2 separate regions of the Homo sapiens genome follow, and region 1 is linked to region 2. Evidence: fine-mapped expression QTL. A gene starts in region 2. The other region holds a variant in brackets. All regions are shown on one strand. Distances are between the middles of the regions.

Region 1 (16,353 bases), 95 kb after region 2:
CTGCTCTTAGGGGTTTATCTCAAGGAGATGGCTACACAAGTGTGAAAGGATGGTTGCACAAGGTGTTCATTGCTGTATAATCTAGAATTCTATATTGGGGAAAATACCTATAGGGAAAAAGTTAATTACGGTTCTTGGGCACAATGAAATACTATGCAGCTATGAAAAAAATGATGAAAGCAGACAGACAGTGTTGCCATGGCACACTGTCCCTAGTAGATTTAGTGGGAAGTAGATAGAGTTATAGATCTGTTTCTATAGTATAACACCATTATCTACAGCTCCCTGTGTGTATGTATATATCCGTAGAGAGAGTGTATATTTCTGCATGGAGGTCTTTATAAATGTAGCACATGTACATATATATATATATACACACACACAGTCGACCACTCCCTTCTCCTGGAAGTACTTTCCGCGTTTGGCTTTCAGGACACCAAGCTCTCTGGTTGCTCCTTCTCAGGTTCCTTTGTTCAGTGCTCTGCCTCCCTGAGGACTCAGTCCCAGACCTCTTTTCTATCTGGCTTGCTCACTGGGGTGTCTCCAGCAGCCACATGGATTATACCATCTACATGCTGTCTAACACCTCAGTTTAAACCCAGAATGGGCCTCTTCCCTGAACTGCAGACCCCTATATTCAGTTTGCTACTGACATCTCCACTTAGGTCTCTAATGGACATCTCAGATTTCACAGGCCCAAAGCCAGGCTCCCAATTACTCCTGACCCCAGGCTTGCTCCTGATAGTGACATGAGGCAGCCAAATGCCTAGGCAGAGAGGGGAGGGTCCCAAATGAAACCCCACGTTCAAGCAAAGATCAGCCTGAAGGCTAAAAGACCAGATTGCTGGTCCTGGATGAAACCCACCACGCAGAGTGGGAACTTCTGTTCCTGTTTGCCCACCCTTTCCCAATTGTTCTTTCTGAATAACGCCTTAACCAATCGAATGTTGCCTTTTCCAGTAATACCTACAGCCTGCCCCTCCCCCCATTCTGAGCCCATAAAAAGACCCAGACTCCCCCATATTAAGGGGACTTTCCTGCCTTTGGGTAGGGGGACCACCCCCACGTCTCCTCTCTGTTGAAAACTGTTTCATCACTCAATAAAACTCCCAGCTTTGCTCACTCTTCCACTGTCAGCACATTCTCATTCTTCTTTGGTGCTGGGCAAGAACTCAACCAGTGTGGAAGCCATACTTGGCCCAGGCGGGTGAAGTGGGCGGGCCGTCTCCTGCAGCAGGTAGCATGGTCAAGCGAGGCCCAGGTGGGCCGTCACCAGCCAGAGGTCCCTGGCTTGCAAAGTGACCGAGAAAAAAATCCTGTGCCACTCCTTTGGAAAATGTCCCTGATTCAGGAAGAGGTAGCTCCATCCAGTTGCTCAAACCAAATCCATTGGCTTCTTTCTTTCTATCATACCTCACATCCAATCTGTCTGCAAGTCTTTTGGCTCTACCTTCAGAATATCTCCAGAATCTTAACTGCTTCACCCTCCTCCCCGGCCTCCTCAGTCCTCTCTGCTTCCGCCCTGGCCCCTCTTGGGCTGTTCACAGCACAGCAGCTGTTGCCACCCTGTTAATGCTCCCACTCTCCTACAGCCTTCGGTCTTGCCCCAGGTAGGAGCCTGAGGCTGCACAGAGGTCAGCACGGCCCCGCTTACCCTGCCCTCCCAGCCCAGCCGCACGGGCCTTGCACACATGCCTCGGCATATTCCTGCCTTAGGGCTGGTGCTCCTGCTATTTCCTCTTCCCAGGTAACCATGTGAAGTGCCTCCCTCTGCCCTCTTTCCAGCCTTTACTTGAGTGTCACCTTCTCAGTGAGGCCTGCCCTCATTCCTCTTTCGCTGTTTGCAACCCATCTCCTGTCCCCCTTCCCAGAACTCCCTTTCCTACTTCGTTTTTCTTCACAGTACTTGATACTGCCTAACACACTCCATGGTTTCTTACTTGCCCTGTTTATTATTTTCCCCCAATAGACAGAATGTTCCATGATGGCAGAATTCTCTGTTTTGTTTCCTTCCATGTCCCCAGCACCTAGAACAGTGCCTGACGCATCTCCTAAGCAATACGACCAATAAGTATGTGTCTGGCTGCCTTCCGGCTGCCAGTGTCTGCCTCTTTCCTAGGGGCAGTGGTTGCGGGGGTGCTTTCTCACATGTCTTAGTAGGCTGTGCAGGCTGGAAGTGCTCAGAAGTCACACCCCCAGGGAGCAGCCTCAGCCAACAGCACCTTGGCTGTAAATGCCCCAGCTCCCTCGCCCTCAGGTAAGCATTGCTGAGGCACACGTTCCATACTCTTTTCCACAGTTCCTCCGTGGGACTGAGCACCACCCAGCCACCCACAGGAGCAGCTAACCTGATAACCACCAGCCTCACCCTCCCTGCCTTACTTCCCCGCTCCCCTTTACCACATGCTGACCTCCCAGATGCATTTCTTGCTTTCCGGTCTCTGTCTCAGGATTGGCTCCTGGATGAACACAAACTAACACTATGTTCACAAATATATTTGGGAAATGCTGGATGAATAATTATACACATCAGACAGATTACTAGAAATTCTCACCAAAGGGATGCACATGTTACCTCTGCATGGTGAGATCTCAGGTGCTTTTTACCCCACATAGCTATCCTTTGGCATTTTTATAATTAGCAAGTGCTCACTCTTCCACTGTCAGTACATTCTCATTCTTCTTGGGCGCTGGACAAGAATTCAACCGGTGTGTAAGCCAGACTCGGCCCGGGCAGTCTCAAACTCCTGACTCCTTATATAATTTCTACAAAAATTATAAAGCTATTTCCCACTCCCCACCCCACATTCATGTAACCTGAAGCATGAGTAAACCAAGAATGAGGTAGGCCTCTGTCTTCTAAGCAACATCAGAACTCTAAGAACATGAGGGACTCTTAGAAAACTCTCTGGAGCTAACCACAGCTGGGTCACTGCTCATGTACTGAAGACCAGCCAGAGGGTTCCCCTGAAAAGGAGGGAAACTGAGCAAACATTCTCCAGTTCTCTTAGTGTGCACATGTTTCAGGAGGTGTGAACCCCACATGTAGCTTGTGTAGGCAAGAAGACAAATAGTGCTACTGTCTGGTCAAGGATTTGTTTGAAGAGCCATGATTATGCCCATATGGTAAGCCACCAGTGCTCCCCATCCCTGTAAGACACTTCTTTCTCATTATTTTCTCCTCTGATGGTGTGCCAGGATGCTGGCCAAGAGAAGCCAAGTGGAAAGAAGGCTGTTCAGTGACAAGGAACCTAAGACTTAGTGCCAAGGACTGAAACCAAGTAAACTTGTAATTTTCCATGATGGAAACATCTACACTTTCTCATTAGTGGCCTCTACAGCAGTTGCCCCAAAGAAGCGTCTCATTGTTTTTTTACTACATTTATGTGAAGCATACAGGCAAACTCAGAAAGACTGTGATAAGGCTCGCCAGAGATGCCTGCACAGGTGCTGGGGGAAAAGCAGGACCATCCTGAAGGGAGATGGTGTCTGTGGACAAAGAACTCTGCAGTGGTTCTTATTTGCATGATTTCTGCTGGTGGAGGCTGTAAATGTGAGCTCAAACTCCCACATAAGTGAGTTTTCATTGTAATCCAGAATGTTTTTAAATCACCCTACTTCTATTGAACTTGCACTATCATCTGTTAACCTCTACTGTATTTATTAAATAAACCTGAATAGGTAAATCACAGTACAGCAAAAGGTTCTGTGTTCCCCAGAATTCTAATCAAACTCCAAATTCCTGAAAAGGCTCTAGTCCTTTCCTATATGTCAAATTTAAATGATAAGTTTTCATTTTGGAACATAAAGAGGGATTTTGAAGACCACAGCATAGCCCTGGGTTTTTGCATAGAGATAATAAACAGACAATCTCTTTTCAGACTGATTTGAGAAAATGTCAGTGTGAATTGGTGAAAAATCTGGGTTGGAAATAGTGCTGTTGTATTACTTCAGGTCTACCCAATGGTCTTTATTAAACCTGAAATACCACGAAGGAACAGGTTTCTGCTCTTAGGGAATTTGCTTTAATAAGAATTAATTGTGTACCAGTTATTAGTATCATTTGATTATTATGTATTTATCATTTAATATTTAGGTGATGTAAAAGTACTTCAACGCAAGAGAATTGAAAACATGGCCACACAAACACTTGTAAGCAAATGTTCACAGCAGCATTATTCCTAATAACCAAAAAGTAGCAACAACCCAAATGTCCATCAGCCAATTAATGGATAAACAAAAGGTGGGCTATCCATACAATGCAATATTACTCAATGAAGTACTGATATATGCTAAAGCATGGTGAACCTTGAAGAAATTAAGTGCAAGAAGCTAGACACAAAAGGCCACATATTGTATGATTCCATTTATATAAAATGTCCAGAAAATAGGCACATACACAGAGAAGAAGTAGATGAGGCTGGGTGCAGTGGCTCACGCCTGTAATCCCAGCACTTTCAAAGGCCAAGGTGGGCAGATCACCTGAGGTCAGGAGTTCAAGACCAACCTGGCCATGGCTAAACCCTGTATCAACTAAAAAGTACAAAAGTTAGCCAGGCGTGCTGGTGGGCACCTGTAATTCCAGCTACTCGGGAGACTGAGGCAGGGAGAATTGCTTGAACCCGGGAGGCAGAGGTTGCAGTGAGCCAAGGTCATGCTACTGAACTCCAGCCTGGGTGACAAAGCGAGACTCTGTCTCAAAAAAAAAAAGTAGATGGTGTGGCCAGGCATGGGGAGGGTGGGGATTGGGTGGTACAGGGCTCCTTTTGGGGTTAATGGACGTGTTCTGGAATTAGATAGTGGTGATGTGTGCACGACTCTGTGAACAGACTCAGAATTATGGGCTAGGTTGGGATTCCTCACATCATGGTGTCTGGGTTTCCAGGGCAGGCTTTCCAAGAGATAGCAAGATAGCAAGAGCCACACGGAAGCCACATGGCCCTTTTTCTGTAGCCCCAGAAGCCACAGCCTCACTTCCATGGCCTTCTAATTGTTGAGGCTATCACAGTCCCATGCAGGTTCGAGAGGAGAGGAATAAACTCCACCTCTTGATGGGGAGTAATGAGGTTCCAGAAGGGCATATAGGTCCGGGAATATTACCCTGGCCACATTGGAAAATACAGTCTCTCACAGATATCTTTCAGCTTTTATATAAATACAGCATCATTATTTAAAGAGCTAGTCTTAAAAATACCAAAAAAGTACAAAGAAGGGGAAAGAATGGTCTACCACTTCCCAAATACCGTGTGTATGTATGTGTGTATATATATGTGTATATACATATCTCTCTCTATATATATAAGTATGTGTGTATATATGTGTGTGTGTGTGTGTGTGTATATATATTTAGGTGATGTATGTATACATACATATAGAGAGAGAGAGAGAGAGAGAGAGAGACGGAGTTTTACTCTTGTTGCCCAGGCTGGAGTGCAGTGGCATGATCTCGCCTCACCGCAACCTCCACCTCCCGGCTTCAA[G/A]CAATTCTCCTGCCTCGGCCTCCCGAGTAGCTGGGATTTCAGGCATGTGCCACCATGCCCGGCTAATTTTGTGTTTTTAGTAGAGATGGGGTTTCTCTATGTTGGTCAGGCTGGTCTCGAACTCCCGACCTCAGGTGATCGGCCCGCCTCAGCCTCCCAAAGTGCTGGGATTACAGGTGTGAGCCACTGTGCCCAGCTTACTGTGTATATTTTTAAGATTATATATATATTGTTAGGAAAATAACCATGTTAACAATATTTTTGTGTATCCTTCCAAAAAAAAGTCAGCGTTTTATATGCACTTCACATTTTTATTAATGCTATATTTTGGAAGTCTTTTTTTCTTTTTCACTTTAGCATGCAAAATCAGCATCTTTTAAAATGGTGACATAATTCCATCGTATTGCTGTTCCATAATGCACTTAGCCAGGGCCCTATTAAAAAACATTTAATTGGTTTCCAATTTGTTGCTATTGCAACCAATTCTGCAGGAAACATTTTTCTTTTCTTGGTATATGTTTAAAGTATGTTTGTATGGTAAATTTCTAGCAATGGAACTGCCAGGAAAAGGGGCATGAGCTTTTTAAAATTTGCATAGGCACTAACAAATTACCCAGTAAAAAGACTGATCCATCGTACACTCCTATCAATGATTTATGCGTCTACTGTTTACCCACGAGCTCACCCACAGTTTGTATTATCAGTATTTTTAGTCCATGTCCATCTGATAGGTGAAAATGATTTCTGGTTTCTGTTTGCATTTATGTTTTTTTAGTATGAGTAGTGTTGAGCATCTGTTCATCATGGGAGCCTTTAGATAAAGTTCTACCCTGGACAGTAGCCATTGCTTCCAGCAGGGGCTACAGACGGCCAGGCATGTGTTCTAGCAGTGGTATCTACTGCGGAACCAGCCCAGAGCGCAGCTGCCAAGGTGCCAGTTAATACACAGCTGGAATAAACATCCGGAAGAACTCAAAACTCAAAATTCCAAACCTGCCACTCCAAGTGCTTGGTCACATGCCCACCCAAATATTAAAAATAATAATGTGTTACAACAATGATGGTTTTATTTATTTTTCTTTTTTCTATATCACAAGTCATCAAGCAAAGAAAGGACAGCAATCTTTTTAAAACCAGCCACCATATTATTGACTCAGACCTCTCATAGACCAGATGCCATTTAGCTCTGGTTCAGTGACACTGTCCCCAGTCAGATTAATGTGAAAAACTAAGGATGCTTCTAAGAAAGTGCTAATTAAGTGGAGAAGGTAGTTTTAGTAATAGAAGTGGTCTTACAGCAGCTGCCATTGACTCAACATAGCTTAATTATCATCATAAGCTGAGGCTTCACTTTCATCATTTACTGGGTTTGGTACAGTTAATTGGGGCATTGGGCAACACCATTTTTGATCATCCTCTTGGCTAGAAATTGCTCCCTCGGGGAGGAAGGCATTTATTTTTTATTCTGAGGACAATCTGTGATTGAAGGAAATAAAGCAGGGTGAGGACAGAGTAGTAGCCTTCAGTTCTTCAGCTCTGCTTTAGAGCAAAGCAGCAGCGGGGTGCATGAGCTCTGATGTGGGACACAGGCATTTGTGACAAGGGCTGAATGTTACCCTGTACTGAAATTGTGAATGATTATTCTAATATGAGTTAGGTGGCAGAATAATATATTGAGCTATTGATGTGGGTTTTGTTTTTCCTGTATTTTATTTCTTCTTTCCAAGCTGGAAGCTAGCCTTGCCTCAGGGAGGTTTGGCTTGGGGGCTGAATTCAGAAGTTGTTTGCGCAGACTCTCTGGTTTTTTTTTTGGTTTTGTTTGAGACAAGAGTCTCGCTCTGTCACCCAGGCTGAAGTGCAGTGGCGCAATCTCGGCTCATTGCTTGAACTCCTGGGTTCAAGCGATTCTCCTGCCTCAGCCTTTCAAGTAGCTGGGATTACAGGCGTGTGCCACCATGCTCGCCTAATTTTTGTATTTTTAGTAGAGACGGGGTTTTGCCATGTTGGCCAGGCTGGTCTTGAACTCCTGACCTCAGGTGATCCGCCCACCTCGGCCTCTCAAAGTGCTGGGATTATAGGCCTGAGCCACTGCGCCTGGCCTGACAATCTGCTTTATGTTTTCTGGAAGCCCGAAGCCTGGGGAAGGATTGGAGATTGGTGGCCCCCAGGCATCGCGGATGGGAATGTGCTCCCTGTGACAGTCTCATGGCAGGACTTCTGTGGAGAGGTTTTGTGGTGTCTCTCAGAAGGTCAGAGCCTTAGCCTAGGATTCTCAGCTTCAGCAAGATTCCTGTGTGTCAGCTTGGAAAGGAAGCGGCCACAAGCCCTTCCCTGAAGGTGCATGCAGGCTGGAGCCCCGGGGATTTCCACAGCGGTCTTGGTCTCAGAAGAAGAGTGGACCTGTCCCTGTTTTTCAGGTACCCTGTAACCTCCTGGATTTTCACATATTTCCAGGGAAGGGAAGCCTGCCCCATCCTGTTACCACACATCTAATTTTCATGCCAGGCTCGAGGTTGAGGGCATCAAGGCTGAGGTAACTTGAAATAAAGAAAAAAAGGGACCAGGCATGGTGGCTCATGCCTGTAATCCCAGCACTTTGGAAGGCCAAGGCGGGCGGATCACGAAGTCAAGAGATCGAGTCCATCCTGGCCAACACGGTGAAACCCCATCTCTACTAAAAATACAAAAATTAGCTGGGCATGGTGGCACCCGCCTGTAGTCCCAGCTACTTGGGAGGCTGAGGCAGGAGAATCGCTTGAACCCAAGGAGGCGGAGGTTGCAGTGAGCTGCGATCGCGCTGCTGCACTCCAGCCTGGTGACAGAGCAAGACTCTGTCTCAAAAAAATAAAGAGAAAGAAAAAAAGGACTATGACAAGTCTCACCCACCTGCGTTTTGGTAGTAAGATTCATACTGCACCACAATTAGAATAACATTCAAGGTGAACGTTAAGGTCGTGCTCCCCATGCCCTTCCCTGCCAGAATGCTCTCGAGTGAGGGAGAAGGGGAGGACGTCACCGTACAGTTACAGGGACATTGCCTATGGCCCTCCCTCGGGAGTGTGCTGTGACAGGAACCACCTGTCCTGCATCACTGCTGACACAGGATTGGACATCACTGCCTCCGAGGATGGAGGAGAGATATGTAAGATCTTGTTGCAATTCCTCAGTGGGGTCCACCTCATCATGAATGAAAATGCCACCTTGTCCCACAACCATGACACCTGTTGCCAGAGGGGAAGAGCGACCTGTGAACACAGGCCCTGTTCCTGCCAGGCTGTGTGGGAGCAAGCAGGGGACTCAGGAGAGTGAGCAAATAGAATCTATTCTAGGAGATTCCAAAACCACCTGAGCAATGAGTCTTCTCCCAACATGAAGAAGCTTGAATGCCTTACTCATCGCAGCAGCTGGCCCAGCCCTGCCCTGCCCAGCCCAGTGCCTCAGGAAGAGTCAGCAAGCTCTGCCTGTGCCTGTGGTTTTGGTCCTGTCCTGGCTTGACTTGTCCTGGTGGAGGGCGAGACCCAGAAGCTCCGCTCCTGGGAATGACAGCTGGCGAGGAGGTACTGGTCTCAGCACTCTGCCACAGCTTAGGCCGTCAGCACGAGCAGATGCCCCATTAGGGGGCCTGAGAACTGAGAACGGGGACTGTAATCTGCTATTTCTGTCCATTTGTTGTTGACCCAGGTAACCAGGAAATATGGGAAGCAGGCAGATTCTGGTTGTTTCCACAGGAGTTGAGACTTAACCAGACAACTAACTCTCCTGAGTGTTCCCTCTTGGGTGGGCACACCACAGTTCACCCCGTAGTCTGTGGTAGACTCAGCATTAGACACAGTGCTGGTGCTTAAGAAAAGTTTCCATGAACAGGCAGTGTGCTTATTGAGTGCCAGCTGTGTGCAAGGTATCGTCCCAGGTACCGAAGAGGATTCCAGGACAAAGTTTCCTGTCTTCAGGGAACTGTCAGTCAAGTGGATCAAAAGACACATGCCTGTGTGATCTACAACCCAGCGGATCATAAGGCACATGCCTGTGTTTTCTTTGACCCTCAGAGGAACAAAAGTGTTTTTATTTGACCCTCAGGGTTTTAAAACTTTATACCAACATTTAAAAATTGGCTACCATCTATATGGAAAAAAAGGCAGTGTGTGCTTGTGTATGTGTATGTTTGTAGGGTGTGTGTGTGTGTGCGTGTAAGGCAGCACTGCAGAAGAACCCGGCCACAGTGATGGCCTCTTCAAATAGGGAATCGGGGAGCAGGAATGGGTGAGAGACTTGTTGCAATGTTTTATAATTTTTTTAAATGTAAAATGTAATAACTTTACAAATAAAAAAGGATTGGGGAATTCACATAAAAATCCAGGTATTTGGCTATTCTTGACAATGCAGAAGCTCTAGCAGGACTGGGGAACATTTCATCTGGAAACGGGTTGGGGGAGGTCAGTATTAAAGGATTTTCAGCTGAGAGGGGGCATCAGGTTTGTATTTTAGAAAGTACCTTAGCAGCAGAGTGGAGGAGCACAGCTTGAGGGCGAAGTCAGGGGCGGGTAGACCAGAGAGACACGTCTGCTGCCGTCATCCAGGGAGGGGTGGGGAGGGCCTGAACCGGACAGTGGCAAGGGACATTAGTGTAAGAGAACCAACAGGTAGGTAACCAATTTGGGGGAGAGTGGAAAAGGCCAGGTGAACTGCCAGGTTCTGCAAGGCAGACCACAGTAACGGCTACAGGATTTTTAAATTAATGGGAGGGGAAAAGGGGGCTCAGGAGATTTCTGGGGGTCTGAACTGGTGATAGCAGAAATGCTAAAGGAATACATCTCCTGAAATGTGAGGGAAAACCCACAGAGAAAATGGGCTTTCATGAGTAATTGGCTCCTCTACCCCTTTCCAGGCTCCGAGAGCGTTTCACGGGTTTACCAGAGAAAATGGCCTCCGGAGACTGCAACGTGAGAGAACTGGAATTTCAGACAGAAATTGAATGCATGTGGCTTAAAAGACAAGGAAGCACCAAGTGAAAAGTAGTCGAAATCATATTCCTTCAGGGGATGAATTTTTTTGGATCTGTGTTCATCCTTTATGGCTTTATTAGTCATTGCGAAAGCCCTTTTGGGGTTGCAAAGCTGCCAGCAGGGTGCTGTTCCTGGAGGATTACCTTGAGCAAGAAGCCCCAGAAAGCAGCCCAGGCAGGCATGTCAGCAGGGAGGCTGTCCTGGCAGCATGCTGTCCAAGGGGAGAGGCCAACGCTCTACCCCTGAGGTTTGAGGCCAGAGGAAAAGAACCAACCTGGAGATTCTGCAATTCTGTTTTCTCTTAAGGTTGCTTTGGCCGTTTAGGGTTTTTCATGAAGGACAGAAACAGATCCATTCCTTGAAGGCAGAAAGAAGTTTGTACTGCCCCGCACTTGACAATGTTTAATTACATTTGCCACTTGAATCAGAGTTGAAAATATCTTCCTTTTTTTCTGTTTGAGAGTCTTGCTGTGCATCCCTCAGGCTGGCTGGAGTGCGGTGGCATGATATCGGCTCACTGCAACCTCCGCCTCCTGGCTGCTGGGTTCAAGCGATTCTCCTGCCTCACCCTTCTAAGTAGCTAGGACTACAGGAGCACACCACCATGTCCAGCTAGTTTTTGTGGAAATGGGGTTTCACCATGTTGGCCAAGCTGGTCTCAAACTCCTGACCTCAAGTGATCTGCCCACCTCAGCCTCCCAAAGTGCTGGGATTATAGGCATGAGCCACCACACCCAGCCGAAAATATCTTCCCTTTGAGACTTGGTGGCCAGCTGTTGATTTCATACTGGTGTGGCCTCAGACAATCTATGATGTAAGAAAGATAGTTAAAGTAAAATCAACCCAGTATTAATTACTTAATAATAACTAATGAACAGTTATGCACCAATAACTCAGCAAATTTAAATCTACCCGTAAGCCCAACTAGGTAGATACTGTCGTCATTCCCAATTTACAGGTGAAGAAATAGAAGCTGAGAAACTAACTTTCCCAGGGGCATATATTTAGTAAACTGGAAAACCCAGGCTTCTACCCAGTGAGTTCAACCACTAGGCTTTAATTGCTTTCAGGATCAGAGAAGTCTGTTCTCTGGTAGCTTTAAACTATGAACCCAATACAGAGTGTCTTCAAATTTGGGTTGATATATAAACGTTATTTTTCCCACAGTTGAGGCTGCACCGAGGACACACTTCTGGTGATGAATGGCATATGAGGGTGCTGGGCTGAGTGGGTGGGGTGACATCACATCACACCCGTGACAAAGAGGGAGCAGGTATTTACTGAAGATACAGGAGCCCTGGGTCAGGGCAGTAAGCATTCGTACATAAACAACTGTGCAGTCCCACAGGGAGACCAAGAGAATGGTGCAGTAGCCTCTGAGGAGTTTTATTTGGTTCATGCAGTGTTGGTCTTTCCAGGCTTTATTTTTTTAATGTTAAAAAATAGTTGATTTTAATTATGAAATATTTCAAACACACAGAAAACAATAAAGCAGATACCTAGTATCACTGAGATGAAACAGCTGTTAATATTTTCTCCTGACTGGGCGAGGTAGCTCACACCTGTAATCTCAGCACTTTGGGAGGCCAAAGCAGGAGGATTGCTGGAGCCCAGGAGTTCAAGACCAGCCTGGGCAACATAGTGATATCTCGTCTCTACTAAAAATTTAAAAAATTAGCCAGGCGGCGTGGTGGCATGCTCCTGTAGTCCCAGCTACTTGGGAGGCTGAAGTGGGAGGATCGCTTGAGCCTGGGAGGTCAAGGCTGTAGTGAGCTATGACTGTGCCACTGCACTCCAGCCTGTGCAACAGAGCAAGACCCTGTCTCAAAAAAGAAAGAAAGAAAGAAATCCCCCTATATGCTTCAGCCCTCTATCTCTTTGAAGAAATATGTTAGAAATACACATAAGGCCAACCCTGTTCCTTTCCTGCCTCTGCCCCCAGAGGTAATAACTGTCATGTGTATCATTCCCATGCAGATTTTTTTTCTTTTTTATTGTGGCATAACTTACAAGTGGTAAGTCGTACAAATTTTAATGATACAGTTTGATGAATGTTTGCTTATGCTATACCTGGATGATGAATTTTTACATGTGTATACACCTAAAACAAGGTAGAGGTCCAAATATTGAACATGTCCAGCACCACCTCAGAGAGCTCCTTTGCTTCACATTATTTCAAAAATAAGCAGATGGAGGTGCCAACATTTGAAAGTTTTAAAATCTAGAGATTTAATATAAAAATTCAAATTTCTGGCTCTTGAAGTTTTGGAAAATATGACCACATTAAGCCCACATTCTAGCATGGGGACAGAGTGGCAACTGCCCACTGTAGACACAGCATGAGTGCCTCAATTTGCATACTATGCCTGCCATGCCGTGTGGGTATATCCAGCCCACTGCATTCACTTACAGAAACTGAAAGGTGCCACTCTATTTGTAAAATTTCAAAAGTGCCACAAAAAATGTAGAGAACAATTACCTTAGCTATCTTTAGGAAGGCAGAGTTTGAGAAAAAGTGTCCTCCTCCCCACCTGCTAATGACTTAGGAAGCTGCTGACAATGTCATAAAATAAAAAGGAATCAGATTCTCTAGGTCCATGCTACTCAAAGTGTGGTCCTCGAATCAGCAGCATCCAGGAGCTTGTTAGAAATGCAGAAAGCTCAGTGCCTTCCCACCCACATGTATGAGTTTGCTAGGGCTGCCATAACTAAGTATCACACAGTGGACGGCTTATACAACAGAAAGGTATTTTCTCACAGTTCTGGAGGCCAGAAGTCCAAGATCAAGGTGTCAGCAGGGTTTGTTTCTTCTGAGGCCTCTCTCCTGGGCTTGTGGATGGCTGCCTTCTCCGTATGTCTTCACATGGTCTTCCCTCTGCATCTGTCCTCAGCTCCTCTTTTTTTTTTTTTTTTTTTTGAGACGGAGTCTCACTCTTGTCACTCAGGCTGAAGCGCAGTGGCATGATCTCAGCTCACTGTAACCTCTGCCTCCTGGATTCAAGCGATTCTCCTGCCTCAGCCTCCTGAGTAGCTGGGATTACAGGCACCCGCCACCACACCTGGCTAATTTTTGTACTTTTAGTAGAGACAGGGTTTCGTCATGTTGGCCAGGCTGGTCTTGAACTCCTGACCTCAGGTGATCCACCTGCCTCGGCCTCCCAAAGTGCTGGGATTACAGCCGTGAGCCACCACGCCCGGCCTCATCTCCTCTTCTTATAAGCACACCAGTCCTATTGGATTAGGACCTACTCTTATGACCTCATTTAACCTTAATTACCTCTTTAAAGACCCTGTCTCCAAATACATTCACATTCTGAGATAGGGGGATTATGATTTCAACATACGAATTTTGAGGGGTATGACCAGGCACGGTGGCTCACGTATGAAATCCCAGCACTTTGGGAGGCCAAGGTGGGCAGATTGCTTGAGCTCAGGAGGTCAAGACCAGCCTGGGCAACATGGCAAAACCCCATCTTTACAAAAATACGAAAAATTAACTGGGCGTGGTGGTGTGCATCTATGGTCCCGGCTACTCAGGAGGCTGAGGTGGCAGAATTACTTGAGCCCAGGAGGTGGAGGTTGCAGCGAGCCGAGATCCTGCCACTGCACTCCAGCCTGGGCAACAGAGCCAGATCCTGTCTCAAAAAAAAAAAAAAAAAGTGAGGGGTAGACACAGTTTGGCCCATGACACCTACTAAATCAGGATTTATATTTTAACAAGACCCCCAAGGGACTTGTGTGCACATTAAAGTTGGAGAAGGGCCAGGCACTGTGGCTTATGCCTGGAATCCCAGTACTTTGGGAGCCCAAGACAGAAGGATTGCTTGATCCCAGAAGTTCAAGACCAGCCTGGGCAACATAGTGAGACCCCATTTCTAAAAGAAAAAAGAAAATTAGCTGTGTGTAGTGGTGCATGCCTGTGGTCCCAGCTACTCAGGAGACTGAGGCAGGATAATCACTTGAGCCCAGGAAGCCGAGGCTACAGTGCGCCGAGATCGTACCACGGCACTCCAGCCTAGGTGAAAGAGGAAGACCCTGTCTCAAAAAACAAACAAACAAACAAAAAGTTGGAGAAGCTTGGTCCAGGTCTGCTCCCTGGTAAATAAAACACTAGTGGGTCCGACTAGGAATGGGGAGGAGAAAAAGGAGAGGCTGCAATGATTTAGTTAGATGAACTTTCTCTCCAGTCCATAGGTCTTAGAGGCTGGAAATACTGGGAAACTTGAGGCCAATTCCCTCCTGAGTGGGAGTCCCTGCTTCTCGTTGAGGAGCAGGGACCCTCTGCACTTTGGGGCATGTGAGCAGGTTAACAGGTAAGGATTGATGAACCAAGTGGATATGAATCAGCCCATAGGAGCTAAGAGGAGCCTCCTTCTGAAAATAGGTTGGAATGCTGGAAATGTGGCTGCTTTTAGCAAAAAGCTCATTTTTACCTAATCACCATCTGTAGATTTCCTCTTTTAAGGTGCAAAGCAAGTCTCTTGGATTTCCTGGAATGGGGACCAGGAAGATATTACCCTGCATTCCTCTTCACTCTTCACAAGCCCATTTTCCACCTCTCTCGTAGGCTTGATGCTATGGCGACAGTTGCCATAGAGATAATCCTATGCCTGGTTGAACCTAATCCATACCCATAATGGTCAATCATATGGTTTATACTAGAGATTTTCAAGCTGTGTCTCATAAACCTGTAAGGTGCTTCCAGGATTTCACAAACATTTTATTCAAATAGCAATTAAATATATGTGTCTTGCTGTGTTGCCCAGGCTGGAATGCAGCGGCTATTCACAAGCACTAACATAGCACACTATAGCCTTGAACTCTGGGGCTCAAGCAATCCTCCTACCCCAACCTCCCAAGTAGCCAGGGACTACAGATGTGTGCCACCATGCCCAGTACAACTAAAAACATTTTAAATTTATTTTTAAATGACAAAGAATGCAAACAACATCAAACCATATTTAATATAGTATTTGAACTAAAATGTGAATATCCAAATTTTGGTCTAACAGAGTAGAGTGATTTGTAGAAGGCTAACCCCTCCTACAGATCATAATTACAAACTCTGGACAAGGTGAAAATAAAAACCTGTTTGATGCCACTGGATGACGACCAGACTAAAGGAAGGGGACTTGTTCCTTGAAAGAAGGAAGACACTCCGGGTGAGGTCCACACTTGTATGACTTTCCCCTAAGGGCAGCCATTCTTGAACTTTAGTGTATATTAGAATCCCAGAGGAAGATAACAGAATCCAGTCTCTACAATATACCATTTACAATGTTCACTATATAAAAATTATTAGATATGTGAAGAAAGAGAGAAATGTGACCCATAATCAAGAGATATACTAGTCAATAGAAACAGACTCACAGACAACTCTGATGTCAGACTGGCAGAGAAGGGCTTTAAAATACCTTTGATAAATGTGTTAAAGAGTCTTTGGAAAAGATGCATATACTGGGTAAAGAGATGGGAAATTTAGAAGAGATCAGGAAACTGTAAAAAACTATATGGAAATCCTAGAACTGAAAAACATACTATCTGAAAAGTGAATCTCCTGCTTCACATCCTCACTCCCATTCCAACCTTCTGCCCTGGAGTTAAACACCTGTAGTAGTCTTTGGTTATAAATGATAAAGATCTTACTCCAGCTTATGCCAAGGTGGTAAGGTATAAGAGAGAATACCTAATGAAACAGTGGGGAGGGACAGAGTGGCACTGGTTTAGGGTCAATTGGCCCTAGGAATCCAAATGCTGGGAAGATGCTCTTGTTTCTCTCTCTTCCTGCCTCTGAGATTTGGCTGTATCCTCTCTCACTGTGAACATTATCCTCTGTGTTGTCAGAGAGATGGCTGGGGTCAGCTCTGGGC
Region 2 (16,353 bases):
ATTGTAGTAATGGCTGCAAAACTATACAGATTTACTAAAACTCACAAAATTATATGGGTGAATTTTGTGGTATATAAATTATACCTCAAAATAGAGCTTTTTTTTTTTAATTGGGCAAATAACCAGGAATTCCACCAAAAAAAGATACCCAAATATTGAATAAGCACATAAAAAGGCACTCAACTTCATTAGTCATCAGGAAAATGTAAATAAAACCACTTATACTCAACAGAATGGCTAACAAAAAACATTAAAGATAATATTAATAACAATACCAAGTGTAAGTGAAGACACAGAGCAACTGGGAAAACTCCCATACCCTACTGATGGGAGTGTAAATTGGTACAACCGCTTTGGAAGATATGTATAACCTATGACCTAGAAAATTCCTTCCCGGTATATATCCAACAGAAATAATGGCACATGTGCACCAAAAGGCACAAGAATATTCATGAATCGTATTTTTTGGTTTTTAATTTAAAAAATTTAAGGCTGGACATGGTGGCTCACACCTGTAATCTTAGCAATTTGGGAGGCCGAGGTGGGCAGATCACTTGAGCCTAAGAATTTGAGACCAGCCTGGGCAACATGGCAAAATCCCGTCTCTACAAAAAATATAAAAATTAGCTGGGCATGGTAGCAGGTGCCTACAGTCCCAGCTACTTGGGAGGCTGGGGTGGGAGGATCACCTGAGCCTGGGGAGTTGATCGCGCCACTGCACTCCGGCCTGGATGACAGAGGTGAGACTCTGTCTCAAGAAAAAATAATAATAATAAAACAAATAAAGATGGGGTCTCCCTATGTTGCCCAGGCTGGTCTTGAACTCCTGGGCTCAAGTGACCCTCCCACCTTGGCATCCCAAAGTGCTGGGATTACAGGCGTGAGCCCCTGCACCGGGCCGTGAATCATATTTTTAACATACAAAAAGTGAAAACAATCCAAATACTACAGAATGGATAAACTATAATATTTCATAAAATACCATAAAGCAAAGAAAAAGATCAAATTACTACTACATGCAACAACATGGATGAAACTCATTCATATAATGTTTGGCAAAAGAAGCCCAACACAAAGGAATATATTAAATGATTACAGGATTAAAAGAATCATGTAAATGATTATATGAAGCCCAAAAACATACCAATAAGACTGCAGTAGTCTAAGAGATGATAGCAGCTTTGACTAGTGAAATGACAGTGAAGAAAGAAAGAAGTATTTTTGAGAAATATTTAGTAGGTAGAATTAACAGGCCTTGGTGTTTAATTAGGTTTGGCGGGGAAGGCAGCAACAGGTGTTAAAAATGACCTCTAGGTCTCTGGCCTATGCAACTGGTAGATGGAAGTGGTAATTACTGAGTGGGAAGACAGAAGGAGCAAATTTGTGACTGACATCATGAGCTGAATTAGTTCATGTTTTGGACTTGCAGTTTAAGGTATCTGTGAGACATCCAAGCAGAAATCTCTAATAGACAGTTGGATGTGTGGATCTGGAGTTCAAAAGGGAGGTCTTAGGGTAAAGATAGAAATTGCACTTAGATGGTAATTGAAGCCATGGGAGAAGACCGGTTCTCTTAAGAAAAGGAGAAGGTGGCCTATACCCAAGCCCTGTGGAATTCCCACACCTTAAAGTCAGAAAGAGGAAGAACCAGCAAAGGAGTGTGACGAACAGACACAGAGGTGGAAGGAAAATCAAGAGTATGGTGACTTAAAAGCCAAAAGACGGGCCAGGTGAGATGGCTCACACCTGTAATCCCAGCACTTTGGGAGGCCGAGGCGGGTGGATCATGAGGTCAAGAGATCGCGACCATCCTGGCCAACATGGTGAAACCCTGTCTCTACTAAAAAAAAAAAAAAAAAAAAAAAATAGAAAAAATTAGCCGGGCGTGGTAGCAGGCACCTGTAGTCCCACCTACTCGGGAGGCTGAGGCAGGAGAATGGCGTGAACCCGGGAGGCAGAGCTTGCAGTGAGCCGAGATCGCGCCACTGCACTCCAGCCTGGGCGACAGAGCGAGACTCCATCTCAAAAAAAAAAAAAGGCCAAAAGATGAACTTTTTTTTTTTTTTTTTTTTTTTTTTGAGACGGAGTCTCGCTCTGTGGCCCAGGCGGGAGTGCAGTGGCGCAATCTCGGCTCACTGCAAGCTCCGCCTCCCGGGTTCACGCCATTCTCCTGCCTCAGCCTCCCGAGTAGCTGGGACTACAGGCGCCCGCCATCACGCCCGGCTAATTTTTTTTTTGTATTTTTAGTAGAGACGGGGTTTCACCGTGTTAGCCAGGATGGTCTCGATCTCCTGACCTCGTGATCCACCCGCCTCGGCCTCCCAAAGTGCTGGGATTACAAGCGTGAGCCACCGCGCCCGGCCAAGATGAACTTTTTAAAGGAAAGAATGGCCAAGTATCTCAAATGGTAATGACAGGTCAAGTAAGATGGTAAGTGTCCCCTGAATTTAGGGACATGAAGAATCTTAAGACCATGGCAAGAGTCATTATTGGGGGAAGTGGTGGGTGGAGGCTGTCAAATAAATAATACAAGAAAATGTCACAGAACTGAAGGACATAAGTCTTTGGATTGAAAGGACCAACCAAGAGCACAGCAAAACGAAAGAAGAAGAAAAGACCTATATCAAAGTACATCACCACGAACAGAGGATAAAAGAAAATCCTAAAGGCTATTAAGAGAAAAAGATGGCAAAGGATCCAGGAAGCCAAATGGCATCAGACATTCAACAGCAACTCTTGCAGCCAAAAGATAATGAATGGAAGAAAGTCTTCAAAACTAACAAATTCTAAATCTTAAAAATTCTTTAAAAACTTACTTTTGAACTAGAATTATATATATTAAGTTGTGACCTTATAATAAAGACATATTTAGACAGGCAAGTTCTTAAAAAATATGTTTTCCATGGATCCTTTCTCAGAAGGCTACTAAAGGTTGTACACAACAAAAACAAGGAGGAAATTCTAACAGGAAAAACAAAGTATTTAAAACATCCTTGAAGTAGTTTGTGTTCCCACTTCTAGGGAAAAAAACTGTAACTCATTATTAAGATAGTAAAAAAGACCTAAACAGAGATAAAACATGCACAGGTGGGAAGACTCAATATCAAAGAGAGGTTAATTTTTCCAAAACTGATTTATAAATTCAATGAAATCTCTCCAAAAAAACACAGATTTTTTGTGGCACTCAACCAGGCTAACTGGAAAATGTACATAGAAGCCCTAAGGGCCAACAATACTACTAAACTATGTTGAAGAAGCAGCAGAAATTTATTTTAATTCTTTCCTAATTAAGACAGTGGGATACTGGTATAGGAATAGACAAATAGATCAATGAAGAGAACGGAGAATGCAGAAACAGACACATGCTACATAACAGGGCACTGCAGAGCAGTGGGGAATTATTTTTCTTCCCAGCAAATAGTTCTGGGACAATTGTGTATCCATATGGGGAAAAAAATGAAACTGGACCCCTACCTCATACCATTTACAAACATCTATTCTAGGTAGATTATAGATCTAATTGTTAAAGAAAAGCAAAATCATAAAGCTTTTAGAAGATAATATAGAAGATTATCTTCATGATCACACATTAGGAAGAAATGTCTTAAACATAACACAAAAAGCATCAACTGTAAAGGAAAAAACTAACAAATTGGACCATGTTAAAGAATTCATAAAAAGACACTACAGTGAGAATGAAAAGACAGGTCTCAGAATGAGACTATATTAGCAATAACTATCACCAGCAAATGGTTAAAATTCAAAACACATATATTGTACACACACACAATCAACATACAAACAAAGACTTCAAGAGAAAAATGGATAAGAGACTTGAACACAAAAGAAGAAATTCAAATTACCAAAAACATATTAAAAGAATTACTTTTAGTAATCTGTGAAAGGTGAATTAAATGCACAATGAGAAATGTAACACATTATCAGCCTGTCAAAACTTTAAAATTCTGACAATATTAAATGTTAGCAAAGATGCAGAGCAAGGAAATTTTTTTTTTTTTTTGAGACGGAGTCTTGCTCTTTCGCCCAGGCTGGAGTGCAGTGGTGCGATCCCGGCTCACTGCAAGCTCCTCCTCCCGGGTTCACGCCATTCTCCTGCCTCAGCCTCCCGAGTAGCTGGGACTACAGGCTCCTGCCACCACGCCCGGCTAATTTTTTGTATTTTTAGTAGAGACGGGGTTTCACCGTGTTAGCCAGGATGGTCTCGATCTCCTGACTTCGTGATCCGCCCGCCTCGGCCTCCCAAAGTGCTGGGAATACAGGCATGAGCCACCGCGCCTGGCAGGGCAAGGAAATTCTTCAACTGCTGGTGGGAATGTAAACTTGTATAATTAGTTTGGCATCATCTGGTAAAATTAAAGATACACTACCCTATAACCTAGCAATTCCATTCCTGGATTAACTCTTAGTGAAACTCATGTATATGTGCAACTACCGTTTTGTGTAAGAGCCAAAAACTGGAAGCAACCAATATATCCATTAATTGTACAATAGTAAATAATTGGTGATATCATCATATAATAGAATACAATGCTACAACGAAAAAGAACTACAGCTCTATGTGATAAAGATGAACCTCACAAACACAATACTGACTTTGAAAGAGGCAAGACACAAAAGAATATGTTCAATATGATTCCATTCATATAAAGTTCAAGTGCATACAAAACTAAATTTATAACATTTAGGGATATAATCCTAGATAGTAAATGATTAAGAAAAGCAAATAAATGAATAACTTAAAGATAGGATAGTGGTTTCCTTTAGGGAGAGAGAAGATATTAGATACAGAAAGGAGGCAAGAGGGATTCTCGGATGTTAGCAGAATTCCTTGACACTGACAGTTGTTAATAATAATTCACTTTATTATCTGCTAAATGTATATGTTTCCATACTTTTTAATACAAAGATTATATATTTTACTATTTTTTAAAAGGCACACAGCCATCAGTTGTCATATAAAAACTACTTTCATCCAGCACACAGCCAAGAGTTTAGTTTCAACTGGTTTAATAGATAAAATAGCTTTCTAGAAATGCAATTCAATTCATAATCTTATGTCATTCTTTTTTTTCTGTTAAAAACAAGAGAAATCCAGCAGGGGGTGAGGGGCAGTGGCTCATGCCTCTAATCCCAACACTTTGGGAGGCCAAGGCAGGCGGATCACCTGAGGTCAGGAAAGACCACCCTGGCAAACATGGTGAAACCCCGTCTCTACTAAAAATACAAAAAATTAGCCCGGCACGGTGGTGCGTGCCTGTAATCCCAACTACTCCGGAGGCTGAGGCAGGAGAATTGCTTGAACCTGGGAGGCGGAGGTTGCAGTGAGCCGAGATTGCGCCACAGCACTGCAGCCTGGGCGACAGAGAGGGACTCCATCTCAAAACAAAACAAAACACAAACAAAACAACAACAACAAAAAAAGAGAAACCCAAAGATAAAATATTGTGAAGGATATTACATATCTTCATTTATATGTCAAATAATACTATTTTTAAAAGAGAAAATAAATTTAAAGTAGTGAAGCTTTTTCAGGCAAGGAAGTAACTGTTAAATGTGTACAGTGCTGGACTGAGTGGAAGGAATACAACAAGTACACGATGGAAGAATGACTCAGACTAAATACACAACATGATTACCTATAGGTTACACATCCCAAATCTGAAAATCTAATCTGAAATGCTCCAAAATCTGAAACTTTCTGAGTGCTAACATGACATGATGTTCAAAGGAAATGATCACTAGAGCATTTTCAATTTCAGATGTTCAATAACTAAGTATAATGCAAATATTCCAAAATCCAAAAAATTCCAAAATCCAAAACACTTCTGGTCCCAAGCATTTGGGAAATGGGATACTCAACCTCATCTCTATTTACAATATAATCTTTGTAACAGTTACTAATTTCTGTAAGCAAATGATAGTTAGAATCAAGTTTATAAACAGTTTTCTACTACATACTACTACGTACTATGTTAAGGTTCCATAGCTTTTTCTTCCAAATATAAGGAAGTTTATAAATCCTCAATTTCTATGGAATCTTGAAAAACAAAAACTTTTAGAAAAAAGAGGCCATAAGAAGACAGATAAGTTTTAATTTCAAATTTTATTTTTTAAAAAACTCATACCCTACTCCTTAGAAGCAGAGAGTAGTGAAATGAAAAAAGAAAAAATAGTGCCAGCCCGTGCTCTTCAAATATCATACTAAAATACAGTCATCAAGATCACAGAAATTCTCCTTGACACAATTTTATAGTGCTCAAATAACTACATGAAATAAGACTCTTGTTCTTCAGAAATTTTTCAATTAATGTCTCAGTACAGGAAGATAGATCACATTTTGCAGAAAGTGTCATGAAAGAATAACACAGGGCTTTAGTATCTCCACACAGTCTGCCCATGCCATTAGAAACCAACAAAATGGTTTATTATCTTCTTGGTTCCTTTCCCTATCTCATCCCAAAGTTTGCATCTATGAGCTCTAAATGTAATAACAGTAATTTCTACCATTTACTGAGCCCTTTCCATGTGCCTTATATTATCTTTTTCAATCCTCACACTGAGGATGTCTTATGGATGAGCAAAGTTAGGCACAGGACAAATAAGAAACTTGCTCAAGGTCATATGCTGCTATTGAGTGAGAGAGCTAAGTTATATTCCAACTCCAGAGCCAGTGCTCTTACTACTAAGCTGTTTATATTCGATAAAACTTATTTACACCATGAAAACTGCCCATAATCACCTACCACCTTCTAACTACAAGATTCTAGGTGCCTTGAGCATTTATTTTTGCCTTTCCAGGCTAATTACATACTCACAGAACTTTAATGGGTGAAAGAATCTAAACTCCTAAGAAAGTTAATATTATGGCTAAGAAAACGGAGGTCCAGAGAAGTTAAGTGTTTTGTCCAGGATTACAACGCTGGTTTGTGACAGCCAGCACTAAAACACAACTCTTGATTCCCAGGAGTGATCTTCCCACTACAATGAAGCCTTGCATCTTATGAAGCTCTTGCTGAAGCCCATACTCTACCCTCCACACAAATAACAAAGCTTATTTTGCCAACTTCCACAGCCTATGATAGCTTCCACGACAGCATTCATATGCAGACAAAACACATTCTTTCATTTCAACAAATAAACAGACACATCACTATACGCTAAGGCAGTGAATGAACCCAAATATGTATCATAATTTTGGCCCTTAATTTTATTATAGAAACATAAACATATTAATTGTAATAAGTGACAAGTGCTATAATAGCCATGTGAACAACGTGTTCTGAAAGCACACAGAGAGGAGTAGATATTTTAGCCTGGATAAAGAATGAGGACTGGGGTTTTGACAAGATGCATTTGAGGCAGGGCAGAGGCAGAAGTGTAATGGTGCTTAGAAAGTAGTAGGCAGCCGGGGACGGTGGCTCACGCCTGTAATCCTAGCACTTTGGGAGGCCGAGGCGGGCGGATCACCTGAGGTCGGGAGTTCAAGACCAGCCTGACCAACATGGAGAAACCCTGTCTCTACTAAAAATACAAAATTAGCCGGGCATGGTGGCGTATGCCTGTAAACCCAGCTACTACGGGAGGCTGAGGCAGGAGAATCGCTTGAACCCGGGAGGGGGAGGTTGCAGTGAGCCGAGATCGCGCTATTGCACTCCAGCCTGGGCAAAAGGGGCGAAACTCCGTCTCAAAAAAAAAAGAAAGTAGTAGGCAAAATGCTCTCATTTCTACCAGTGACTGTTAAAATAAAAAACAATACTAAATATGGGCTCAGAAGACCTGAGTTCAAGTCTAGGCTGAGACTCATGTGACTGTGAACAATTTCAATATCTTCATCTGTGAAATGTGGATACTAATACTGACCTGCCTACCTCACAAGATTTTTGTGGGGGCCAAATTATTTGAAAGTACTTAAAAACTTCAAAGTCCTGTATAAACATAAGTTATTTTCTTACGTTTTCACTTCTAGGCAACCCTGTGGGTCCTTCCCCTAAACGCTGTCTCATAAAAAATTCGCCCTTCAGGATGAAAATACTCCAATGACATCATTCATATGTTCCTTAGGAGATATTAAATAGTTAACATTAATGCCTTCAGGTTGAAACGCCAAGCCTCTTTCTATTGAAATAAATACATGCGTGTGTGTTTTTAACTGCTTAAGCGCTGATACTGACTTCTAGTCAATGCTTACCATAAATATATTTAAAACTAGTACCACATGAAGGTTTTTTGGAAATTTTGTCAGAAATTCCATTCTATTTTATAGTATGCTGTCAAGCAACTAACTCAAGAAGAGACTGCAAGTAGCAATCACTTTGATCCCAACTAGTTCTGTATTAGCTCTAGATACAACCAAATATATATACTGGACCCTAAAAACAGAACTGTTGGAGTACAAGCATGCACGCGAATGCAGTCAGTAGACAAATCCACTGCAAAGTGCAATGAGTTTCTCATTCTAAAATACTTGAAGGGCACAACCAGACCCCTCCTATAAATTAAAGAACACTCTCATTTCCTTTGAAGTTTGAAAGAGTAGACTTTATAACCCTGTCTCCTTTTCCAATCGCTCTTTAAACTCCATCCAGGCCCCATTTTGTTCCACCGTAAACCCGACTTCTTAGCTACTCCTTGGATGATCAGCCAAGTAAAGTTGCATCGAACCGTAACAGTCAAAAGAAGGACAGGATAAGGACCAGGGGAGCAGAAGTCCTCCCGCCACTCCAGGCCAGTGGCTGTTTTACCTTCGCAGTACAACTTCCCGTTTTCCCCCTCTTACCTTGTACACTTTCCCAAAGGCTCCGTCGCCCAGTTCTCCTATAATCTCCCAAAAGTCTTCGGGGTTCAGGTCCCTCTTCACGTGTTCGTACTGCTTCTTCTTCTTCTCGCTCCCCAACTTGAAGATCTTACGGAAATTGAAGAAGGACATTTTTCCTCCCAACACAGAGTTCCTTGCACTTAAGGACTAAAAACAATAAAAGGCAAAGTTTCTCTTCCCTGCTCTCCCGCGCGAGCCCGGCTGGCGGCGGCGGGCGCGGCGTCCCTCGGCCCCCGCAGCTCCGGCCGGGCGGTCCCGGGAGAAGGCGGGGCGGCGACCCGGGCTCCGGCCCGCGGTGGGGGTGCTGCGCGAGCGGCCCCTCCGCCGAGCCCGGCCCGCGAGCCGCGCGGTGGGCGCCTCGCCTCCGGCCCACCCTCCGGGAGCGGCACCTGCCCGCAAGCTCGCTCCCACCCGGCCTGATCCGACGGGTCCGAGCGGTCAGGACTCCCGCGGCGGCGGCTTAGGCCCGTGTCACGGCGAGTCTCCAGGGGCGGCGGCCACTCTGGGAGAGAGAAGCGGCCGGCGGCCTCGGAGGCGGGCAGTCGAGAAGCCGAGCCCTCCCGCCTCGGGCCGCGAGCCTAGGGTCTCCTCCGCCGCCGTCCGCTCCCGCGGCGCAAGGCCCGCGCGTCCCCTCGGGTCTGGGGCGCCGCCGCCGCCGCCTGTCTCCCTCCCCAGCCCACACAGCCTCGGCCTGGAGCGCGCGCCGACGCCGACTCCGTAGCGCGCCCGCGCGCTTTCCCGGCTGCGCGCCCGCCCGGTCACGCGCCCTGCTCACCGCGCGCTCGCGTGGGGGCGTCCCCTCTGGCCCCGCGCACGCGCGCTACGTCCCTCAGACTGGCTGCCCCCGAGGGTTCGCGTGAGCGGAGCACGGGGCTCGGGGTGCGGGGGGCTGGTGTGATGGACGCATTTGTTCTTCGGTCCCTGACGATTGTTTCTCATTTGCCCTCCAAGCCCCAAATCCTGTCAGTCCACGGCCTTGATGGAGCGGCCCCCGTGGGACGACCCTGTTGATTGTGCTAGCGGATGTTGTCTCCATTCTGGATCTGGGAAAAACTGTGGAGTGAAAGCCGGACCTGTTAGGGTTGGGACCTGAAAGCGGACTTTTTCGCTCTCAGACGGGCCCCAGGTACAGTGAGAGGGGAGTTTGTGTGGTGGTTGTGAGCTTGAGCTTTGGAGAGAGAGATCTGTGACCTTGGGCAGGTGACCTCTCCGAGCCTCGGTTTCCTCGCCGTAAAATGAAGATCCTAATAGTCCCTACCAGAAGGTTGTGAATGAGACAATAGATGGAAGCCCTTTGCGCGGCCCCTGCACCCGTAAACGCTCAATCTTAGTTCTTACTCTTGTTGTTTTAAGTGTGCAGGCAAGATAGACACAGATACATAAAAACTGTTTAAGACCACTTCTCTTTTTTTTCTTTCTTTCTTTTTTTTTTTTTTTTTTTTTTTTTGAGACGGAGTCTCGATCTGTCGCCCAGGCTGGAGTGCAGTGGCGCGAACTAGGCTCACCGCAAGCTCCGCCTCCCGGCTTCACGCTATTCTCCTGCCTCAGCCTCCCGAGTAGCTGGGACTACAGGCGCCCGCCACCACGCCCCGCTAATTTTTTTGTATTTTTAGTAGAGACGGGGTTTCACCGTGTTAGCCAGGATGGTCTCGATCTCCTGACCTCGTGATCCGCCCGCCTCGGCCTCCCAAAGTACTGGCGTGAGCCACCGCGCCGGGCCCCCACTTCTCAACTGATGACTGCGACACTCCCTTGAGGGTAAAACTAACTTCTGGCCACCTCCACAACTGTAAACCTGGTGTCACTCTTGGTGACTCCACCTCAGCTAAGGCCCCCACTTCCTGATCTGCCTCCAGCCCCCTTGGGCAGCACTCCCTGGTGGGGCAGTGTGGACGTTGGCTGGAATCCGTCAGGTGGTGACCTACCTTCCCCTCCTCCACCAGACGGGAGCTCTTTCAGGCCAGTGGTTTGTTGTTCATCAAGATATCCAAGTACCCGGCAACATTCCTGGCATATAATAGGAAGGCAGATCTGGTGAATGAATGAATGAATGGCGGTATCTGGAGCAGAGACAATGTATGTATATATTGCTATTTATATAATGTCTGCCCCCCCAGTCATTTTGCCCTTCAGCCCCAAAATGGCATAGCAAAACCCCCCTTCCAGTAAGACGCTTAAGATGATTCAATTCCTTGAGATCCTTCTATTTTTTTAAGTGTTATTGCAATATATTGATATACAATAAACTGTACATATTTAAAGTGTGCATTTGGTTTTTTTGCTAGTACTTGTTTGCTTTTTTTTAAAATTATACTTTAAGTTCTGGGATACACATGCAGAACGTGCAGGTTTGTTACATAGGTATACACGTGCCATGGTGGTTTGCTGCAAGTGTGCACTTTTATATGTTTTGACAAATGTATAGACCTGTGAAAACAATACTATAATTATTTGTAATTATTATCATTTATGGAGAAAATGAAATGCTTAAAAAATAAAATTAAATTAAAAGTACTATAATTCTACTATCCAGACACAACCATTGATAAGAACTTATATTTCAAAACAGGATTTTTTTGGTTGTGCATTAACTTTTTTCAACATGGTTGAGGTTGTATTACATAAAAAGGTTTGCATCCTGCACTTCGCATATTTCAATACAATTAATAATTGTTCTCTTCCATTATGAGATATTTAGATTATAATTCCTCTGTTTTTAATAAAATACGGATAAATATCTTTGTACACAAATCTTTTTCCACATATTTGATTATTTCCTTAGGATAAATTGCCAAAAGTAGATTTCGGTCAATGGGTATATGTCTGTTTCCTTATTTTGTTCTTTTCAAAATAGAAAAGACTTTACTATTTTGTCAATTAAAAGATAGTGTATTACTGGCTGGGTGGGGTGGCTCACACCTATAATCCCAGGCTGAGGTGGGAGGATTTCTTGAGCCCAGGAATTTGAGACCAGACTGGGCAACATGGCGAGATCACATCTACCAAAAATTAAAAACAGAAAAATTAGCTGGGCATGGTGGCACTCACCTGTGGTCTCAGCTACTGGGGAGGCTGAGGCAGGAGGATCACTTGGGCCCAAGAGGATGAGGCTGCAGTGAGCCATGTTTGTGCCACTGCACGTCAGCCTGGGCAACAGAGCTAGAACTTGTCTCGAAGAAAAAATAAAAATGAAAGATAGTATATTTTTGTTGTAAATAATTCAAATAATACAGAAATTATAAACTAGGAAGCTGTCTATAGTTCTGTCCTCCTTCCTTCCCCCCTACTCATAGTTACCCTCGACCTAACCACTGTTAAAAGTTAAGCCTGTGATGATGGATATGTTTATGTAATAGGCAGTGGTGATGTACAGTTATCACCCAGCTCATCTAGTTATATACATTAAGTATGAGCAGCTTATTGTATGTCAATCATAATTCAATAAGTGGTTTTTAAAAAGTCACTAGCAAAGCAAAGATAAAGTTCTGACACCATTAAGAAATAGAAATAGGCTGGGCACGGGGGCTCACACCTGTAATCCCAGCAATTTGAGAGGCTGAGGTGGGTGGATCACCTCAGGTCAGGAGTTTGAGATGAGCATGGCCAACATGGCAATACCCCGTCTCTAACAAAAATACAAAAATTAGCCGGGTGTGGTGTCATGCATCTGTAATCCCAGCTACTCGGGAGGCTGAGGCAGGAGAATCGCTTGAACCTGGGAGGCGGAGGTTGCAGTGACCTGAGATCGTGCCACTGCACTTCACCTGGGCGACAGAGCTAGACCCTGTCTCAAAAAAAAAAAAAAAGAAATAGAAATATTATCATAAATTTTTTCATATATTATGAAAAAAAGAAATGGAAATGAGCCTCTTGTAAAAGCTTTTCCTTTTAATAACATAATACATGGCCAAATAAAAAAAGTTAAGCCCATGAGCATGAGAGAATTTTGGGGGACAATAAAAAAGGGTTTTATAACTAGATTATGGTGATGATTTTACACTTAGAATGGGTGAATTATATGCTTTGTAAATTATACCTCAATAAAGCTACTTTGAAAAAGTTAGGCCTATATATGTTTTTTTCTGTGTGTATGTATGTGTATGTGTGTATATATATATATATATAAATATATATATATATATATTTTTTAAGATGAAGTTTCCGTCTGTCGCCAAGGCTGGAGTGCAGTGGTGTGATCTCGGCTCACTGCAACCTCCACCACCTGGGTTCAAGCAATTCTCCTCCTCAGCCTCTTGAGTAGCTGGGATCACAGGCGCACACCACCAAGCCCGGCTAATTTTTTGTATTTTTAGTAGAGACAGGGTTTTGCCATGTTGGCCAGGCTGGCCCTAAACTCCTGACCTCAAGTATTCTGCCCACCTCGGCCTCCCGAAGTGCTGGGATTACAGGTGTTAGCCACTGCACCTGGCCGCATGTATATCTGTTAAGATATAAAACTGGCATCATCCAATACAGATCGTTGACATCTTTCCAAGCCATCCCAAATAGATCTGTCTAATCCTTTTTTAATAGCTGCACAGAGTTCTAGTGTCTAACTATACCATAATTTATTTAAGCATTTCTGTATTGACAGGCATGACAGGCATCTAGGTAGTTTCCAATTTTTTTGTCATCATAAACAATTCCACAGTTAGTGTGCATATACAAGCATCTTTGTGTATTTGTCTGATTATATTCCCTGAAGACACAATTCAAGAAGTGGAATTGATGAGTCAAAGATCATATTAAAAATGTTTTTGCTCTGTATTGCCTAACTGGCCTCTAAAAAGATTGGTGGCCAAACATGGTGGCTCATGCCTCTAATCTCAGCGCTTTGGGAGACTGAGCCAGCAGGTTTGCTTGAGCCCAGGAGTTCCAGACCAGCCTGGGCAATATAGTGAGACCCTCATTTCTACAAAAAATAAAAAAATTAGCCAAACATGGTGGCTCATACCTGTAGTCCCAGCTACATGAGAGACTGAGACGGGAGGGAGGATCACTTGAGCCCAGGAGGTCAAGGCTGCAGTGAGACACGATCGTGCCACTGCACATGAGCCTGGGTGACCGAGCAAGGCCCTGTCTCAAAAAGAAAAAAAGAAAAAGAAAAATGTTGACATATGAGAGTGTCAAATTTCACCACACCCTCAATAGCAACAAGGTATTATCCATCTTTTTTTTTTTTTTTTTTTTTTTGAGGCAGAGTCTTGCTCTGTCACCCAGGCTGGAGTGCAGTGGTATGATCTCGGCTCACTGCAACCTCCACCTCCTGGGTTCAAGCAATTCTCCTGCCTCAGCCTCCCAAGCAGCTTGGATTACAGGCGCCTGCCACCACAACTGGCTAATTTTTTGTATTTTCAGTAGAGACAGGGTTTCACTATGTTGGCCAGGCTGGTCTCGAACTCCTGACCTCAAGTGATCTGCCCACCTCGGCCTCCCAAAGAGCTGGGATTACAGGCATGAGCCACCGCACCTGGCCTATCCATTAATCTTTACCAAGCTAATAGCCCCAAAATAACTTATCTTAATTTAGAATTATCTGATTATTAATGATGTAATACTTTTCCATTTGTATATTGGCCACTTTTATTTCTTATTTTATGAATTGCCTAATCATATCAACGAATAATATCAAATAATGTTTGTCAGTATTCTATAAATGACATGAGCAAGTCTAACATACTTTGATGAAATGATCACAGAGTTAATAATAGCTTATATATTTTCACCATGAAGTTATAGCCACAGAAATTACTTAGTAACACTGGGTGTGATGTCATTTAGTCAGATCAGATATTCCCAGTGAAGGCCATGACATGTAGATGTTTGTGTTATTTATAAATGATAATTTGGCTTTCCTGAATTTTTAGAACTTTAAAAGTAAAGATGAAGCAGCGATCATGTATTCATTTTTTAAAAAATTTTTTTGGATTATACTTTGGTATGCAAATAAATTCATTTAATACATAATTTTTGGCTCTACCCACCTTAAAAATAGTTTAATATTTTCTCACTAAGCAGCTTGGTGAGAGGAATACTATCTTCACAATTTACCTGGTAAATAATCTTCTCTGGTAATAATAAGGATATCATCACAAACTGGAAATTTAGGCTGGGCACGGTGGCTCATACCTGTAATCCAAGCACTTTGGGTGGCCTAGGCAGGAGGATCGTTTGAGGCCGGGAGTTTAAGACCAGCCTGGGCAATATGGCAAGACCTCGTCTCTACAAAAATAAAATTAGCTGGGTGTGATGTTATGCACCAGCTACTCGGGAGCTTGAGGCCAGGAGTTTGAGGCTGCAGCGGGCTATGATAGCACCACTGCACTCCAGCTTGGACAACACAGAGACCCTATCTCTAAATAAATAAATAAATAAATGGAAATTTAGTACATTGTGCTTAGTGGTTTACATGCATCATCTCATTTAAACCTCATGGCAACCTCATGAAATAGGTACTATGATAATCCCTATGTAAAAGAGAGGAAACTAAGGCAGTGAGTTATGTAACTTGGTTATGGCCTCACGGGTAGTAATGGCAGATTTTCACTTGAATCCAGATCTCGGAAAACCTAACTCTCCAGTATTTAACAACTCCACTAAGACGGTCTACTTAGCCTCCTTGAGATTTTGCCATAGTCGTCTCACAGGATCGTTGCCAATGCTATGTCTTTCTCCTTCCTCTAAATTGAAAACATTCTACTCACTGTCTCCACTTTGTCAGCTCAGCTCCCACGTATGTATGTATGTATGCATGTGAGTGTGTATATGTGGATATATATGTATATATGTGTTCATATGTTAATACATATGTGTGTATATGTGTGAGTGTATAGTACTGAGGGTGTATGCATGTGTGAGCATGCATGTACATATTGTGTGAACGTGTGTATGTGTACGAATATGTGTGTATGGGTATGTGTGAATGTGTTTGTATGTGAGCGTGTATATATCTGCATATGTATGGGAGGCTGTGTATGTTTCTCCTAGACGGAAAGCATTTAGAGGGCAGGGACAGTCATGCTCATCCTTGTACCTCCTACATCTAGCCCAGTGTCTTCCTATTCCATACATTATTGTTGAATGAATAAATGAAAATGATAAAACTTTACACCTAGTGAAAGAAATTACATGTCAATTCCTTTCCCCTTCCTTATTTAGACAATAAATTTACTAGTTAGTTCTTTAAATGCTATTGTGTAGATTAGATGGAAGTAGCAAATTCCTTTGATATACAAGTATTCTGTGACGTAAATACAGTTTTCTGTCCCTGTGGAGTTATATTTTTAGAAAGGAATTTTTTAGATATTTTAAGAAGGTAACTAACCTGTGATTATGACAATTATTCTCCTGAAATAGAATTGTGTGTCATTCAGAAAATTCCAAATCAGGTTTTGGGTCTCTCTTTTTTCTATTTTGAAAACAAGAAAAAGTAAACAAGTCACCTGATTTAAGCTCTTTTTTATTTCATAAAAGGAATCGAAAAATATCCTCCCTTCTAATTCATTTCTCTTTCTGCG

Direction of the effects. Positions count from the first base shown, and alleles are read on the strand shown. Sizes are in standard deviations (SD) of each study's normalised expression.
As copies of G replace A in region 1, the expression in cerebellum of the gene that starts at base 9,553 in region 2 goes down (small effect, 0.33 SD a copy in GTEx).

What was found.
Region 1: its variant is fine-mapped to the expression of SLK in cerebellum (GTEx, PIP 0.93).

Annotation. Positions count from the first base shown.
Region 1 is chr10:103,864,907-103,881,259 of GRCh38, reverse strand. STN1 (STN1 subunit of CST complex) reads left to right here. Exons shown (of 10, transcript NM_024928.5): 10 at 1-3,691. Among named protein-coding and RNA genes, the nearest start is that of SH3PXD2A, 18 kb to the right of the region's middle. The variant G/A (reference allele first, on the strand shown) is at 5,481.
Region 2 is chr10:103,960,340-103,976,692 of GRCh38, reverse strand. It overlaps SLK (STE20 like kinase), which reads right to left and starts at 9,553. Exons shown (of 19, transcript NM_014720.4): 1 at 8,798-9,553. The coding sequence starts at 8,947. It overlaps LOC102724351 (a long non-coding RNA gene), which reads left to right and starts at 9,648. Exons shown (of 5, transcript XR_007062282.1): 1 at 9,648-10,912. It also overlaps the pseudogene RN7SL524P. RefSeq lists enhancers at 4,681-5,180, 5,181-5,682 and silencers at 9,032-9,131, 9,142-9,191, 9,232-9,691.